Regions from separate parts of the Homo sapiens genome. Here all the other regions are linked to region 2. Evidence: fine-mapped expression QTL. A gene starts in region 2. Each other region holds a variant in brackets. All regions are shown on one strand. Distances are between the middles of the regions.

The links.
Region 1: its variant is fine-mapped to the expression of VRK2 in whole blood (INTERVAL, PIP above 0.99).
Region 3: its variant is fine-mapped to the expression of VRK2 in blood mononuclear cells (TOPMed, PIP 0.97).

The regions. Positions count from the first base shown.
Region 1 is chr2:58,147,698-58,153,645 of GRCh38, reverse strand. The region is part of intron 12 of VRK2 (VRK serine/threonine kinase 2); the gene reads right to left. Among named protein-coding and RNA genes, the nearest start is that of FANCL, 91 kb to the left of the region's middle. The variant AC/C (reference allele first, on the strand shown) is at 3,083.
Region 2 is chr2:58,044,098-58,050,045 of GRCh38, reverse strand. It overlaps VRK2 (VRK serine/threonine kinase 2), which reads right to left and starts at 3,240. Exons shown (of 13, transcript NM_006296.7): 1 at 3,178-3,240; 2 at 1,079-1,219. The coding sequence starts at 1,214. LOC107984043 (formin-2-like) reads left to right here and starts at 2,813. Exons shown (of 3, transcript NR_171623.1): 1 at 2,813-3,522. RefSeq lists a silencer at 2,988-3,257 and enhancers at 2,861-3,416, 3,408-3,527, 3,417-3,972.
Region 3 is chr2:58,156,073-58,161,831 of GRCh38, reverse strand. It overlaps VRK2 (VRK serine/threonine kinase 2), which reads right to left. Exons shown (of 13, transcript NM_006296.7): 13 at 1,961-2,483. The coding sequence ends at 2,139. It overlaps FANCL (FA complementation group L), which reads left to right. Exons shown (of 14, transcript NM_018062.4): 12 at 194-310; 13 at 1,653-1,724; 14 at 2,032-2,585. The coding sequence ends at 2,067. Among named protein-coding and RNA genes, the nearest start is that of FANCL, 82 kb to the left of the region's middle. The variant C/A (reference allele first, on the strand shown) is at 2,720.

The DNA of each region.
Region 1 (5,948 bases), 100 kb before region 2:
CACAGATGTAAAACTCCTCATTAAAATACTAGCAAATTAAATCCAGCAACATATAAAAAGAATAATATAAAATGACGAAGTGGGGTTGATTCAAGGAATGGAAGACTAATTTAATATTCAACCACAAACCAGTGTCATCCACTATGGTAACAGTCTAAAGAAGAAAAATCACATGATCATATTAATTGATACAGAAAAAGCATTTGACAATATTCAGCACCTATTCATGATGAAAACTCTTAGTACATTAGAAATGGAGGGGAGCTTCCTCAACTTTATACAGAACATCTATAAAAATGTCTACAGCTAACCTACTGAATAGTGAATGGACAAAAACTGGAAAGAAACCAAATGTTCTTCAATGGTATATCCATACTTCAGATTACTACTGAGCAATAAAAAGGAATGAACTGCTCATGTACACAAAACTTGGATCGATCTCAAGGGCATGATGACGAATGAAACAAAGCCATTCTCAACAAGTTACATATCATAAGATTTGATTTATATGATACACTCAAAATGATAAAATTACAGTGATGCAGAATAAACCCACTGCTTTCTGAGGATTAGGATTGGGAAGAGAGTGTCACTATAGCATGAGCAATTCCTACGTGGTCATGGAACAGGTCTGCAGGATAATTGTGGTGGTTACTCCATACATGTTATAAAATATCTAAGGAACACAGACATGCACGAGTACATGTCAAAATTGGTGATATCCTAATAAGGTCTGTATTTTATGGTAGTATATGAATGTCAATTTCCTGCTTTGTAAAATTATATTATGGTTATGTAAAATGTTTTCATTTGCAGGAGTTGGGTGAAAGGGTAGGTAAGGGTATAGGGAGGCTGTATGTATTTTTGCAATTTCGGAGTCTACAGTTACTTCAAAATAAACTGTTAAAAAAATGCAGAAATAAAATATAAATCCACCACTACAAAAAAAAATGCAGGTGAAATACAAATATTTTCAGACAGACAAGAGGTGACAGAATTAGATTCCAGGAAATATATACTATGATAAATGTTAAAGGAATTTGTTCAGGCTGAAGAGAAATTATACCAAACTAAGATCTATTGAAGGAATAAAGAATTTCAGTAACTGTAAATACTGGGATATGTTAAGACTTTTTTTCCTTTTCCTTTCTTAATTTTTTTAAAATGAAAAATGGCTCCTTAAAGCAACAATACCAATGCATTCTGAAATATATTACACATGTAAAAGCAAAACGTATAACAACAATAGCACAAAGGATGAGGGATAAAGGGAAGTATATATTTTTAAGGTTCTTACACATTAAGTCAAGATAGAATGTAATATGATCAGTTAAATGTGCACATGGTAATTTCTAGAGCCACGCTGTCTAATATGACTTGACCACTTGAAATATGGCTAGTTATAATTGAGATGTGCTGTTACTATAAAATAGACACCAAATTTTGAAGACTTTAGAAAAAGATGTAAGTATCTCAGTAATATTATTCTGATTATACCATTGTGGATACTGGTTTAATCAGAGGACGTTATTAAAATAGATTCTACCTGTTTCTTTTTACTTTTTGAAATGTGGTTAGTAGAATTTTTTAAATTGCATATGTGGCTTGCATTATATTTCTGTTAGGCAGGATTGTGCTGAGCAGGGATTTGCAAACTTGTTTTGTAAAATGCCTGAGAGTAAATATTTTAGGCTTTTTTGACCATACAGTCTCTGTTGCAGTTAGCTCTGCCACTATGGAACAAAAGCAATCAAATACAATATGTAAGTGAATGAGTATGGCTATGTTCCAATAAAACTATTTACAAAAATAGGTGGTTGGCTGAATTTGGCCCATAGGCTATGGAGCTGACTGACCCCTTGCTCTAGAGTGACCACCAAAAAAAAAAAAAAAAAAAAAAAAAAAAAAAAAAAACAAGCATAGAAGCATAGTTAAAAAAAAATTCTCAATCAGTCCAAAATAAAGCAAGAGGGAGGTAAAAAGGGACAAAGAACAAATGGGGCAAAAAGAAAGCAAACTGCATAATGGTAGATTAAACCCAGCTATATCAATAGTTACCTCAAATGGAAATGGAGCAAATATAGTTACATGAAATAGATATGGAGCAAATAAAAGATAGTGTTTGCCAGATTTTATAAAATAGCGAGGCTCAACTATATGCTAGTTACAAAAGCCACAGATAAAAAGACACAAGTGGATTAAACAAAGGATGGAAATGGATACAATGTATAAATGTTAATCATAGGAAGGCTGGAATTGTTAAAAGTCAGATGAAGTAGAACTCAAGATAGAGTATTTAATAGATATAAAGAAAGATATTTCAGAATGATGAACAGGACAGTTAACCAAGAACATATAACTACTATCTGCATATACCTAATAACAGCATCAAAATCTATGAAGCAAAAATGTATAGAAGCAAAAATGTATAGAAGAGACAAATGGATAAATTCACAATTACAGTTGGTGATTGTAACATTCCTTTGTCATTAAATGATAAAACGAGGACAAAATAAAACAGTGAATATATAAGATTTGAACACTATTAAACAACCCCAAACTTCATAAGTATACAAGGAACATTCACTAAACTAGGCCTTTTCCTTGGTGACAAAATAAGTTTCAGTGAATTTTAAAAGATTGCAATAATACAGGATGTGTTCTGATGACAGCAAAATTAAATTAGAAATCAATAACAAAAAAGATACCCAGTAAACCTTAAAAATACTTAGGAATTAAATAACATACTAATAAATAATCCATGGGTCAAATAAATCAAGGGACATTAGAAAATACATTGAACTGATTAATAATGAAAACACAACACATCAAAATTTGTGAAATAGACAGCCAAAGCACAGCTTACATATTTATAGGTTTAACTATATACGTTAGAAAAAAAATGAAGGAAAAAATTAGTGATTTAAACTTTCACCTTATGAAGCTTGAAAGAATAAATTAAATGCAAAATAAGTAGAATCAAGCAAATGATAAAGAATTAGTGAAACAGAAAACATATCAATGGTAGGTTTTTTTAAAAAAATCAACAAAACCAAAGGTTGGTCTTTGAAAAAAAAAAAAA[AC/C]TAAAAAAAAAAAACCAAAGCTGGTCTTTGAGAAGATCAATGAAAATGATAAGCCCTTAGCTAGACTACTAAAAAAAGAAAGAAACCAAAAGTTACCATTATCAGAACTGAAAGAGGGACATCAATATAGATATTGGTGATGATAAAGGGAAAATAAAGAATATCCTAACTTAGTGCTGATAAATTTGAAAACTTAGATGAGATGGACAAATTCTTTGAAAAATACAAATATAAAACTGACCCAAGAAAAAAAATCTAATGATCACTCTATATATTATAGAAAGTAAATGTGCAGTTAAAAAATTTCCTACAACAAATTATCAGCCCCGATGGTTTTCTTGCTCAATTCTATCCAACATTTAAGAAAGGCAAATCTTACAAAAACATTTTCTGAAAACAGAGTGCAACACTTCCAACTGGTATAATTCATAATGACCCTGAAAACAAAACCATACAAGGATATTACGACAAAAGAAAATTACAGCTGCTCTGTGAAGTAGCCATCCTTTTATTCCTTTACTTTCTTAATAAACTTGCTTTCACTTTGCAAAAAAAAAAAAAAAAAAGAAAAGAAAAAGAAAATTACAGACCAGTATCCCTCATCAGTCTAGGTATAAAAACCTTCCATGGAACTGAAATTCAGCAGGAATTGAGTTGGAATTCAGCAAACAGAATTCAGCAGGAAAACACATCATGCCTAACTGGAGGTTTATCCCAGAAATAAAAGGTTGATTTAACATTTAAAAATCAGTGTAATTCATCGTACTAGTAAAGGGAAAAAATCATGTGATCATCTCAAAAGATCTCAAAACAGTATTTAATATTCATTATTTACATTTATTTTTCAACAAATATGGTGAAATTTCCTCAGCCTGATAAAGGGCATTTAGAAAAAATCAACAGCTAACTTAATGGTGAAAGAATGAATGCATTCCCCCTAAGATCAGGAACCAAGCAAGGATGGCCACTGTCACAACTTCTATTCAACGTAATACTAGAGCTGCTAGCAGATGTAATAAGACAACGATAAAAAATAAATAAAGGGCATATATTGGAAAGGAAGAGGTAAAACTGTCTCTATTCACAGACATCATTAACTATGTAGAAAGTCCTAAGAATCTATTTAAAAAATAATAAAACCTATTGGAACTAATAAGTACATTTAGAAAGATCCCAAGACACATGATTATATTGTATATCAAATATAACTGATATAGAAATAGAAAATAAATTCTATTTCTATATACCAGCAACAAATAACTGGAATATGAAATTTTGAAAATTACTACTTAAAATGGGATCAAAAATATTTAGAGATAATTTTAATGGAAGATGTATAGACATCTACACTAAAAACTACAAAACACTGTTGAGAGAAGTTAAAGAAAATGCACATAAATGCAGAGAAGTTCCACATAAATGCAGAGAAGTACCAGGTTTATGCACTGGAGGAGTCGACATTGTTGGGATGCCAGTTCTCCATAAACTCATCTTTACACTTAATGTACTCCCAGTCAATATCCCATTGTGCATTTTTTGGTGGAAACTAACAAGCTGCTTCTTAAATTTTATGGAGGAGACTAGGACCTAAAATGGCCAATACATTTTTGAAAGAAAATAAAAGGATTAAAGAACTATTCTAATTTCAGAACTTGCTGTAAAGCGACAGTAATTGATGCAGTGTGGTGTTGGTGTAAGGAGAGACAAGTAGAATAGAAGAAAATAGAGCCCAGAAATAGGCTCACACACACAGTTAGCTGACTTTTGAAAAGGGCTCCAAAGAAATTCATTAGGAACATCTTTTCAATAAATGATGGTGCAAACTATATGAAAAAGAGAACCTCAACCTCCACCTCACACAATACACATGAATTGATTTGAGATGGCTCATAGAACCAACAATGAAAGCTAAAACCATGAGCCTTGTATAGAAATATATAGCAAAATAACTTTGTGACCTTGAGGTAGGCAAAGGTTTCTTAGGTATCTTTACAGAAAAACAAACAAACGACAAAAAAACTATTAAAATATTGATAAATTGAACTTCAAATAAAAAAACAAATAATATAAAAAGCTTCTGCACATCCTAAGATACTATGAATTAAATGATTAGGCAGGCCGCATGCTAGGAGAGGATATCCATAATACAGATATCTGATAAGGACTCCTGTGGCTTAACAATAAAAAGACAAATATCCAAATAAAAATTAGAACACTCGACAAAGAAACTTTGTAAGAACAGATATATGAAAGGTCAGTAAAAACGTGAAAGTGCTCAAACTTAATTAGACATCAGGTGAATAATTGGAAACGCAATAATACACTAATACACATGTTAGAAAGGCTAAAATTAAAAAGAGTGACAATACCAAATATTGGGGAGGACATGGAATGGCCAGAACTCTTGTACATTACTGGTGGGAGTACAGAATGGTACTTTCAAGAACTATTTGTCAGCTCTTTATAAAATTGAACATACACCTGCCCTACGACCCAGCAATTCTACATCTCAGGAGAAATGAAACATGTCCATTGAAGGATTTGTGCCAGAATGTTTGTAGCAACTATATTCATGGTGGCCAGAAATGAGTAGTAGCCCAAATGTCCATTAATAGGAGAATGGCCTTGTGAATTATGATGTAGTTACACAATGGACATGTGAACTATGATATAGTTATACAATGGAGTGCTGTTCAGCAATGGAAAAAACAAATTACTAATACATGCATGAACATGGATAAATCTCAAAAAAAAAAAAAAAACACTGAGTGAAAGAAGCCAGGCCCAAATGAATGCATACTATATGACTGCATGTTTATGAAATTCTAGAAGAGGCAAATCTAATCTAGTGATGAGAATCAAAAT
Region 2 (5,948 bases):
ATTTTTTCAAGCAATTTCAAGCAAGTTCAAACCCTTTAAATGGGTCCTTTACTTGACTCATACAATTTTTTGTGCTGATCTTGTCTTTCCAACTAGAATAGACACTTAAGTATTTAATAAGCAGATATTTATTGACCAAACTTCATTCATTCATTCATTCAAAACTACAATCTTAATTTTATCAGAAGAGGATCTTTTATATTTCAGGATCCATGAAGCATGTTTTTCTGGAAATATGTGATGAGAACCCAAGATTCCCTCAACGGAGGTATTTTATCAACTCCTTAATCTCCTATAGAAATAGATGTGATCTCAAGTCTCAAGTGAGTACATTTAGGAGAATTTATCCTTGAGGGTATATTTTTAAAAATCACTACTATTTTCCTTATTTTATTAATCAATCTTTTAATGGATATCCCCTCCTCATTCCAACTCAATGATCCATTAAAGTTCAGTGTAATTTTTAAATGCTTAAATGCAATGTAAAGGCCTATCCAGCCCATGGTTCCTTACCTGTACCACAGATCACAGAAAATAATTTTGAGTGTTTATTTTTTCAATTATCCCAAGAATGGCACATCCCTAGGGACCACTCTAGATGCACGAGAGAGAAGTTAATTCATTTCACAGAATAGATGCCTTAAGTTTTATCTATGAATTCTCCAGTAGAGCCCAATTAAGAAATGACTAGACTCTTGTATTGCCTAAATATTGATTAAGATTCACAAACAGAAAGTGTTTTTATCTATACAGTTGTGGTTTCTCATCTGAAAAAAGCATGTTTCTAAGAAAACAAGCTCTCAAAAAAAAAGAAAGTTAGCATTTTGTCTGGCAGATTGTATAATTATGCTCTAAAAAGACTTCTAAGATTTACTCAGAAAAACATGGACAACAAGGAGTGGGTCAGTGATGTCTTGAACCTAGACACTGTACTCTATTATTACTTAATCGAGTACAATCATGAATTTTAATAAAGTACACATATGAATTCCATATTTCCATTCTTAAAATACCACTAAGTAATCACGGTTACAGTCACAGATATAAGAATAATTGTTAATTTAAGGTTTTACTTTACCTAAATATATCAATCCAAATCCTCCAGAGCCAATCTTCTTGCCCAGTACCCACTGATTGCCTTCCATATCATCCAGAACCTTGCCTTCTGGAAATGGAATAGGAAGTTTGTATTTTTCATTTCTTTTTGGTGGCATCACTTCTGTTGGCAGAAGGGGTGAGATAAATGGGTAAAAAGAAAAACAAACAAACAAAACTCTTAAAATACACTTCCCAAAATGTCTTCAATAGGGAACTTTCCCAGGTTCCCAGAAATTAGGATTCTAAAGTTAATTCAGTTTGGAAAAGCCCACACATTATATTCAAATTAGAAATTCACATACATTACAATACTGAGATCTAAGAGGTATAGATATTTTAAAAAAACAGAAGCAAACTAACCAAATTTCATCCAAAATTCATTTCGGGGTTCTATAGCACATATTAACAGTGCAGGACACACCTTAAGAAACACGAAATTAACAATTTCCAATGAAGAAAGAAAATAAATTTCATGTACATGGAAATATTGCTGTCACTGAGAATGTAAAATGTTAAAAGTGAGAAGGTCTTCAGTCACTAGAAAAGAACACAGGATTGGATTGGGAAGACACAGACAATGGCAATGGACATCTCACCACCGTGATACTAGGTACTCAGTAAACATTTGTTAAATGAGCCAGGGATTTTCACGGATATGTAACTTAGCAGAATACTAGGCCATCAGTTCTCGGGCTGCCAAAATATTCTCAGCATTTTGTCTTCTTACCCTCTTTCTCAGTTTATCACAGTGAAAACAGTCCTGCCTTAGAGATTACAACTGTGCCACCAACAACAAAAGCATAATCTCCACAGCACAGCCATGCAACTTTAATCAACTAATTATAATTGTACATAGGTTAGCAAATTTCTCAATGGGAAATTCTGAGTTAAAAGAGAAAATTTCTTAGGGGAAAATACATATGCCAGCATACATGCCTGAAAATAATTTAAATGTGAAGGTAACCATGATCCTCTAAGTATTTAAAACTATTAAGAGTTTCTGACATGAAAGTTAATTAAAAACGTATATACGTAAATGTAAAGTTTTCTTAATATAATCTTCCTAGCTTCCATAAAAGAAAGTATCTGTTTTTCCTTTAACGGGTTTTTCCTCCTTCACTTAACTGCTTTTTTACTTAGCAGTATTGTCCCAGGTAGAGTCGCTGCGTGTATCTTTAACAATATTCACCTTCCTCCTGATAGGCACACAAGGGCTGGGAATTTGGATGGTGAACTATGCCTAGAGCATTGATTGTATCATAAAGCAGGAAAAGTTTTTGTGGAGGTTTCCCTTGACCAGTACATTATATAGGCTGGTGCCTATTACAGATTTACTGATTTAAAACTTAAAGTCTCCAAAGTGTAAACTACTGATTAAGGAATAAATTCTAAATAATTATAAAAAAGATAAATACACTTTGGGGCAAGGCAGCGGCCTCAGGGCTTGAGGCGGTAAGGGAGACTCTACGAAATGTACATCCTGGGGGCGAGTCCCGAGTTCATCTGCCAAGGGAAACGACAGCCTCTCAGGGCCCGTCCCTGTCAGGGGTGTCCCTTCGGCTTCTGGGTACCTTCCCAGGGCTAAGATGAGTCCTCAACACGAGTTTCCGAGCAAACTGGTACCCAGGGGTTAACATGTGCCTGGGCTGACCTCCAACCCCGCCGCGGCCCCTGACCCTGCGGAAGGTAACGAGAAGCAGCGCGGCCCAGCCGCCTGGTCCGTCCGCCCTTAGCACGCCGGGGACCTACGGCCAACCCCGCGCCCCAACTTCCCGCCACAAGTTCTCTCTGCACCGGCAAAAAGAGAAACTCCACCCACTTTTCCGCTAACACGTCGGACCCGCTTTTGGCAAACGTGAGTAGAAGGGGACGCCTTGTTCTCACTCCCAGCGGGGAAAAAAGAACCAAACGCGGAAGCAGCGACTCTGCCCGGGCCGGAGCTGAGGCCCGGGGGCTGGGACGGCCCGGAGTCCCCGGCATCTAACTCCGACGGCAGCCCTTTTCCGAGCGGGGCCGCGGCTCCGGCACTGCAAGCGGAGGTGCCGCCCGCCACCCAAGACCCCAGAGCAAGAGACTGACCGGGCCTCAGGATCCCCCGTCGCCGGGCCGCGCGCACCGCCTCCTACCTGCCGCTGCGACGAGGCGGAGCCCCCGGGCCTACAGTCCCGCGGGGAGGCGGGCCCAGCACTCGAGCCTGCCCTCCCTAGGACCTGCCTAACTTCTCTCCAGCTGCGTCGGCCTCGCAGTGCAGCGGCCCGCGGAGCCTCACACAGGCCGCAGCCGGTTCCTTTCAGCGGCCTGTCCACGCCCCGGAGACGCCCAGGGGAAGGAGAGGGCGCGGCTACATGGGGAATGGGAGCTGTGTTACTACCTCCACCCTGGCCCGCCAGCGTCTGGACGAAGAACCGCCGCCAGACCAGTTTGGTACGAAATAAGCACGACATGCATTTGTGTAGGAGTGTTAGATCTCCTGTACCACAACCTGAGTACTACGAGCTTCCAAATGGCTAGTCCTTACCGAGCTCTCGCCGAGCAACTAACTATTGGTACTAGCGAAGACTCCAGTTAGGAGGGCCTGTATGTAACTCACCGCGTTTAAGTTCTCAAAGGCATATTGGTTCAGGACCTATTTCTGCCATTAATCGTAGGATAATTTAACACCGTAATTAACAAACTTCAGGTTTTTTTGTCTGTGAAATGGAAATAACCCTTGTTGTTAGATTATAAGGTTATTGGTTATAAGATTATGACAATAAGGTGAGGACTTTATTAAGCAGTTTTCTAATACATAAAGACTCATAGTGGCCAGGTGCGGTGGCTCACGCCTGTACTCCCAGCACGTTGGGAGGCCGAGGCGGGTGGATCATCTGAGGTCAGGAGTTTGAGACCAGCCTGGCCAACATGGTGAAACCCTATCTCTACTAAAAATACAAAAAATTAGCCAGGCGTGGTGGCGGACGCCTGTAATCCCAGCTACTCGGCAGGCTGAGGTAGGAGAAGCGCTTGAACCCAGGAAGCAGAGATTGCAGTGAGCAGAGAGCGCGCCACTGCACCCCAGCCTGGGCAGCAAGAGGGAAACTCAGTCTCGAAGGAAAGAAAAAAAAGACTCATAGTAAGCTTATATTTTAGACTAAACCAAACAAATGCTTAGACAAAGATTATTAATACGTCAGCATTCTACATAGTAACCACCAATAATTGGTTGGGATACAAATACTGAAAGGAAAATTAGAGCCCTTTAATGACTTTGATAGAATAAGGAATTGGGGCTCCCTACATCTTTCAGACTGTCACCAAAATGAAAGATGGCATGAGAAGACGTTTCTAAAAACAAACAAAAAAGTATTTTTAAAGAAACAGTCCATAGAATAATTGTGCCCTTAGTCATTCACTGGTCCAACAGTGTCCTTTCTTATTTTCTTAAGATATTTATATAACAGATGCATAATTACAGATATTTATGTAACAGATGCATAATAATCCTAATATCCATATTGGGTACTCTTTCCTCCTTTCCAAATTTGTTTAGCTTTCCACCACTTCCCCGGCTCCCTTTTGAGAAGAAACAACTCCAGTAGCAACCACAGCAGATTACTTGTAGGTGGTTCCTCTCCCTACAGGCATGTATCCAGTGTTAGTAAATCCTGTTGGCTCAACCTTCAAAATACATCCAGCATCTATCACTTAGCACCCTTACCTGCATTCTGGCCCAAACCATATTTTTTCTCTAGGTAATTGTATTACCCTCCTAAATGTTTTATACCCTCTTATCCCTTTAGTCTGTTCACAGCAAGCAGCCACATGATCCTTAACGCTTAAATAATTACTGAGCTTAAAACAATTCAGTGTTATTCCAATTTACTCACAATTAGCCAGTCTTCGCTATGACTTTAAACAGCATTTCTCAACCTGGGCACTATTGACAGTCAGCCTGGATAATTCTTTGTTGGGGGTTTGGGAGAAGGAGGAGGATTGAGAGATAGGCTGTCCTGTGCATTGTAGGATATTTAGCAGTATCCCTGGTCTCCTCAGCACTCCCTCCCACACAAGTTAACAACCAAAATATCCCCCAACATGACGAAATTTTGCCAAAATTGCCAGTCGTTGAAAAGAACACTGATCTACCTATTATGCACTCCCACTCCCCAATGTCCTATTACTCTCTTCAACCACAGTGGCCTGCTGTTCTCAAGAACTTTTCGCATTTACTGCCACCTGGACCACTCTCCAACCTGGTATCCGTATAGACTGCTCCATCACTTCCTTCAGGTCTTTATTTAAAAGTCAGTTCAGTGAGACCTTTCCTAAACATCCTATCTGAAATTTCAGCTCACCCACAATATTTCGTAGCCTCTTTCCCTGTATTTTTCCCAGTACCTACTGCTATACAGCAATATATTATACAGTTTATTATTTATTTTGACAAAAGACAATCTTTTTCAGTAAATTGTATGTTTCATGAGGTCAGGCAACATTTTTGCCTGTTTTCGTCACTACTGTATCCCCAACCCCTAGAAAGGATATGGGCAACCATTTCCTTCTTCAATGAATAAATGAACCATGCTGGCCCCATTCCAATTCCCATGATTGGTTTAGACAGTACAAAATAAGCATGTGCTGAGTCTAGGTAACGAGGTGAAAAGAAGTTTGCTGGACACATTCTTGGAAGAGATAGTCTCTGATGTGATGGTTAAAATGGCTGCAGTCATCGTGTGACCACAAAGATGGGAAAAAGTACTAATCTAAAGCCCCAGGAATGGCAGAATATTCAACAAATGTTAGAACAGCTAGACATCCATATATACAAAAAAAAGAAGAAAGAAAGAAACCTCAACCCTTAATTCACACCC
Region 3 (5,759 bases), 110 kb before region 2:
TAAAGTAGTTAGAAGAATTGTAATGTTCCCAACATAAAAGGTAAATGTTGAGGTGATGAATATCTTAATTATCCTGATGTCATCATTAAACACTGTATACATGTATCAAAATATCACACATACCCTCCCAAATATGTACAACGAATAAGTTAGTGAGACACATACGCTTTTTATAAATATTTTTCTTTTGAAGGATTTTACTATGGATTGTGGAATTTGTTATGCTTATCAACTTGACGGTACCATTCCTGATCAAGTGTGTGATAATTCTCAGTGTGGACAACCTTTCCATCAAATATGCTTATATGAGGTAAAAAATAAAAATATTGTCAAGACTTTTTTCCGCTAACACAACATAGGAAGTATTCCTGTTTGAAATACACAGAATCTAAAATCTGTTGAGTCAATAGTGATCCTCTCTTTTGCCATTAACTCCTTTTACCAGTTTATTCCAGATGCTTATGTGCTTCATTTCTTCATCACAGTTACTAATGAGTGGAGAAATGTTCTGAAGTATCCAAGGGAGAAAATCTATCCAGAATATATTCATGGACTAGCTTATTGACACATAACAAATTAAATTGATGGTACATTGGAATCTTTCTATAAATTCCTTGTTACCACAATGTAAGCTTCATAGGTTTACCCGAGGTGGAGGTGGTTGAAAGTGGCAGTAATACAGTGAAAATGAAATTAGTACTATGTAGTATCTATTACTTTTCAGGCTGCATTTAAGAATAGAATATATCCAATACTACTACTTTTCATGTTGAGAAGAATGCCTTTTGTGATCTGAGTCTCACAGCACTCAGGCAATGCCACTTTACTTACTGTATGTGAAGTCTACTTTCATTCCTGTCTTTAGTGCCTGGCTTCACCTTAGGGCCTAGTTGATACATGATAAACTGTGTGTAACTATATACAGAACACCTTGCAATTGTATGTTGCCTTCGGTTTCAGTCTTCCTTAATATCACATCTTTACTTTTGTGATTAGAGGTAGCAGTTGGTGCCGTCTGTACTTTGCCAATGGAGAACTTAGGCAGAGGCATCTATTTACCTTATATAAAATCATGAAATTACAGAAATACAGGTCAAATTACAGAAATACTCTAAGGGAACATGTGATTTCTTTTGTAATTATGAATATTCATTTAATTTTTAAAAATTCACTGGCTCATGCTTATAATCAATGGGTTGAAAATTAACCCACTGTTAGTGATTCAGACCAGAACTAAGAGGGAAATTTTCAAGAGCCTGTAGTATCTTTAACAGCAGGAGTTGTTAATTTGTGATTAATGGATTTAGGGAAAGTCTATGAATGCCAGGAACTTAGTATGCATTATTTTTATGTATGTCTATTCTGGGGATAAAGAAAATGCGTAATTCTTATCAGATTCTTAAAGGGGCCCATAATCTGGTTATAAACCAGTGGTTTAGGCCTTCAATTCCATGTTGATTTCCCTTGTTACTCAACATCTTAATAGTCTGCTATTGGCTCAGGAAATACATCCCTTACTCTTGCAAAACAAAATTAAGCTAAGTCTTCTGGAATAAAAACATAATGCACTTAAAAACAAAGGGAATGACATTTGGAGTATCTGTAATTTGTAATCATGCTGACGCTTCTCCTTTATCTTTTAAAATTTGCAGTGGCTGAGAGGACTACTAACTAGTAGACAGAGTTTTAACATCATATTTGGTGAATGTCCATATTGTAGTAAGGTAAGCAAATTGTTAATCACATCTCATAAAATGTGCCTAGCTTTCAGTAATATGTTCTAGAAGATAGATCTATATAGTATATCAGTTTATCTAAAACTTTTGAAACTCATTCTCTGTATTTCTATTTTTCAAATTCTCTGATCAAAAACATTAAACTCCTTTTCTAGATTTCCTAGGTGATCTGAAACTTCAGAAGTGTTTTCCAAACTGTACTATGACACTATTCTATGACACTATTTCTAGTACAAAGCAATTTTATTTTTTAGAGTGTCCACAAACTTTGTTAAAATATGTTCTCTTTTTAAAGCCAATTACCTTAAAAATGTCTGGAAGGAAACACTGAAATAAGAATACAACATTTCGGTGAAGAGCTGGAAACTTAAAAAATTATCAAAAGGAATTTTGGTATCATCTTCAGAGAAAAAATAAAGCAAGAAATACTAACATCAAAAGGACAGGTATGATGATGCGATAATAATAAACATCTGCGTTTGTCTCTTCACTAAGAGTAAACTGGGAAATTGTAGGCCAAAGTCCAGTTGAACTTTCTAAGTCTGTGATCCCCGTGCTGACTGTGGAAGTGTATTTATACCAAGATGGAGATCTTGACTTCTTGAATATATCTGGACTGGTAAAATCTTGATGAGGCTCATAAAATGAGTTTGGGAATTGTGTATAGCTGATTTTTTGTGGGAAACTGTTTACTTCATTCAAAGGTTCTTGAGACTCTTGATATTTCTGTCTTCTCCTTGTGCTTTCCTATGGAAAAAATACATATATAGTTTAGTTTGTTAGACGTGAGTTATCCAAGTATTTATTTTGTGTAGTGTGTAAGAATGCTAAATAAAATGTTATACAAGATCAAGTTTTTGCGTGTTATTTTTCCTGAGAAGTAATTTTTAGGTAAAGATCTTAAAGATTTACACTTTTTAAGAGTTTATAAACATCCAACAAGCAAATCTGGATATAATTTGAGTGGTTCTTTTAAACCACGT[C/A]AGTAGGCCATCTCTTAAGTAATTTATAATCTAAAAATAAATAGGATAGAATATGAAAACTGAATTTTCTTGGCAAAACCAAAAAATTGGGCTTAATCTTAAGGGGGTAAGATAGCCATAATTAGAAATATTTTGGTCATTAATGTGATTCTTTCTTTACCTTCTGATTCCATGGCAACTGAGAAGTGTCCACTGTACAGTGGGCAAAGGATGAGGCTGTACACAGCCAAAGAAAACTGCCTCAGGGGTAGCTATAGTGTTATGTCTCTTGGAAAGCTATACAGACGAACCAGTATAGACCGAATAGATATTAATATAAAGCAAATTAAGTGGTATTAATATAAAACAAATTAACTGGTTACTTATGCAAGTTTCGGGAGCTACTTCTATGTTTTCATCATTCCTGTTGGCCAAAGTCCCAGGAATCAGTTTCCTGATCACCACTTAACTGGCTGAAAGTCGAGTTTTTCTGCTTTGCTTTGGTGACATCTGGCATGCCCCCTCAGCACCATTTATCAAGTAACTAACTTAGAAGAGAAGAAATTTATAAAACAAAGCAAAATACTTTAAGCTTGTTCACTGTCCATCATTCTCAGAATAGCTACTACCTTCTCAACCTTTAAACTGCCACCCTTCAAACAAACAGCCCTCCCCTTTCTAGATACAGAGTTTTGGAAGTGTCAGAAAGGAGTCCTACATAAAACAAAGGATGTTTTAAAAACTACTAGCTTTCCTATGAAAAAAAATTACTTGAGAGTTAAATGACTCACTTTAGAGTTAAATAACTCATTTTAAACTACTCTTTCTGAGCTAACGAAGTCACATTAATGCAGTTTTTCATAAGTTTGTCAGCTTTATTAACTAAAGTCAAAATAAGTGAATAATTATTCCAGTAGGCCTATAAAGCATAATACAAATAATAATTATGCTATCAAATCATAGAGCAGCATTTACATATAGCTCACATGTGCAAGGCTGGGAGATATCTCCACTTAGGTAAGGATAGAAGTCAAGCTACTATAATTTCCAGAATCATCTACTGTGTAATCTATACACTTAATCTCTCTTGAACATCAGCAAATGACATCATATGGCAAGGCACTCATCAAAGAATTTAACCACCTGTTGTCTTCAGTACACTGAGGGGGTCTGATTAGGATAGTCTATAACAGGAGTTGCCAAAATTTGGCTTGGCTAGTTGCCTGTTTTGTGAATAAAGTTTTATTGGAACAGAGCCACATCAATTTGTTTATGTATTGTCTATGTGGGCTTTTGCACTACAATGGCATTGTTGAATAGTTCTGACAAAAACTGTATGGAAAGTAAACTGAAAATATTTTCTTTCTGGCCTTTTAAGAAAAGGTTTGCTGACCCCTGCTCTACGGCATTATTCTTCGAGTATTAGAAAGCAAACAGATCATCATAACTTGTTAAAATGCAGATCTCATTCAAAAGGTCTAGGAGTATGACCTGAGATTCTGTATTTCTGAGAAGCTCCAGATGATGCCAATACAGCTGGTCTGCACACCCCACTTTGAGTAGCAAAGGGCTCAAGGCAATGCAATAATCTACTGTGATAGAGCATTGGTTCTCAGCCTGGGTTGATCCTGCCCCACAGAGGACATTTAGCAATTTCTGGAGACATTTTGGGTTGTTACAGCTAGGAGGAGATACTATTGACACCTAGTAGATAAGTACTAGGAATGATGCGAAACATCCTACATCACAGGACAGCACCCCCACAACAAATAACAGCTCAGCTCCCAAATGTCAACAGTGCAGCTGTCAAGAAACCCTACATTAGAATAGTTATTAACTTTGAATGCACATCAGAATCGACTGGGAAGCTATGAAAAATAGCAACACTACTTCCACTCTGGCCATGAAAATCTGATACCAGACTTCCCCTTCTGCTGTGAAAACCCATAAATAAATAATAGAAAACAAAATTAGTCAAAATATGTGAAATAACTTAGGGATCTAAAACAAAGCTCAGGAAGGGAAAATAACACAGACCTAAGAAAGGCCACAATTTAAGATTTACTGCAGACTAGGCCAAAAAAGCCTGAACAGAACTTATAAAATGATCAGGTTTAGTCACCAGTAAGTTAACTGTCTGCCAGAACTAACCTCAAAACTCTTTAAAGGAATGCAATAAAATCTGGAGTCTAAAGACCACAGCATCCACAATGTTCAGTATACAATAAAACTACTACAAATGAGATGCAGGAAATGTGACCCATAACCAGGAGAAAAAATTAACAGAGATTCAGGGCTGATCCAGATGGTACAATTATCAAACAAGGACTATAAAACATCTACATAAATATGTTCAAGGAATTAAAGTTGAACATAATTAATGAACAGATATGGGGGAGGTGGAATCTCAACATACAAAGAAATATACTTGTGGAACTGAAAAATACAGGGTATAACATGAAAAATTCATTGGCTAGGTTTAACAGCTGATTTGACAATCAACTAGAGGTCAGGCAAAAACAAAACAAAACAAAACAAAACAAAACAAAAAAAACACCACCACCCAACCTGAGGTACAGCAACATAAAAGACTGATTTAAAAAAATAGTTATTTAGCTGCCTATGAAAAAGGTAAAGTATTCTAACATGCATGTATTTGGAACTCAGAGAAATAAGAGAGATTAAGGCATGAAACAAATTGATGAAATCATACAAAACCTTTCCAATTTGAAGACAAATATCAACCCACAGATAAAAGCAGCTCTACGAACCCAAAGCACAATAAACAAAAGACAGCCATCCTTACAAAACCAAAAATAACAAGCAAATCTTGAAAGCCACAGAAAGAAATACATTATAAATGGGCCAATAAGAATAACTGCTAACTTCTTAGCAGAAAAAAAAACAGACCTATGAAGATGGAAACATCCTTTTTAAAGTTCTGAAAGAATAGATTCCATATTCAATGAAGCTTTCAAAATCAAAGTGAGGGGCATCCAGTTATAGACAAGAAAGAGTAAGCATCCCACCTTATTCTGGTAATTAAAGAGTGGACAAAAAG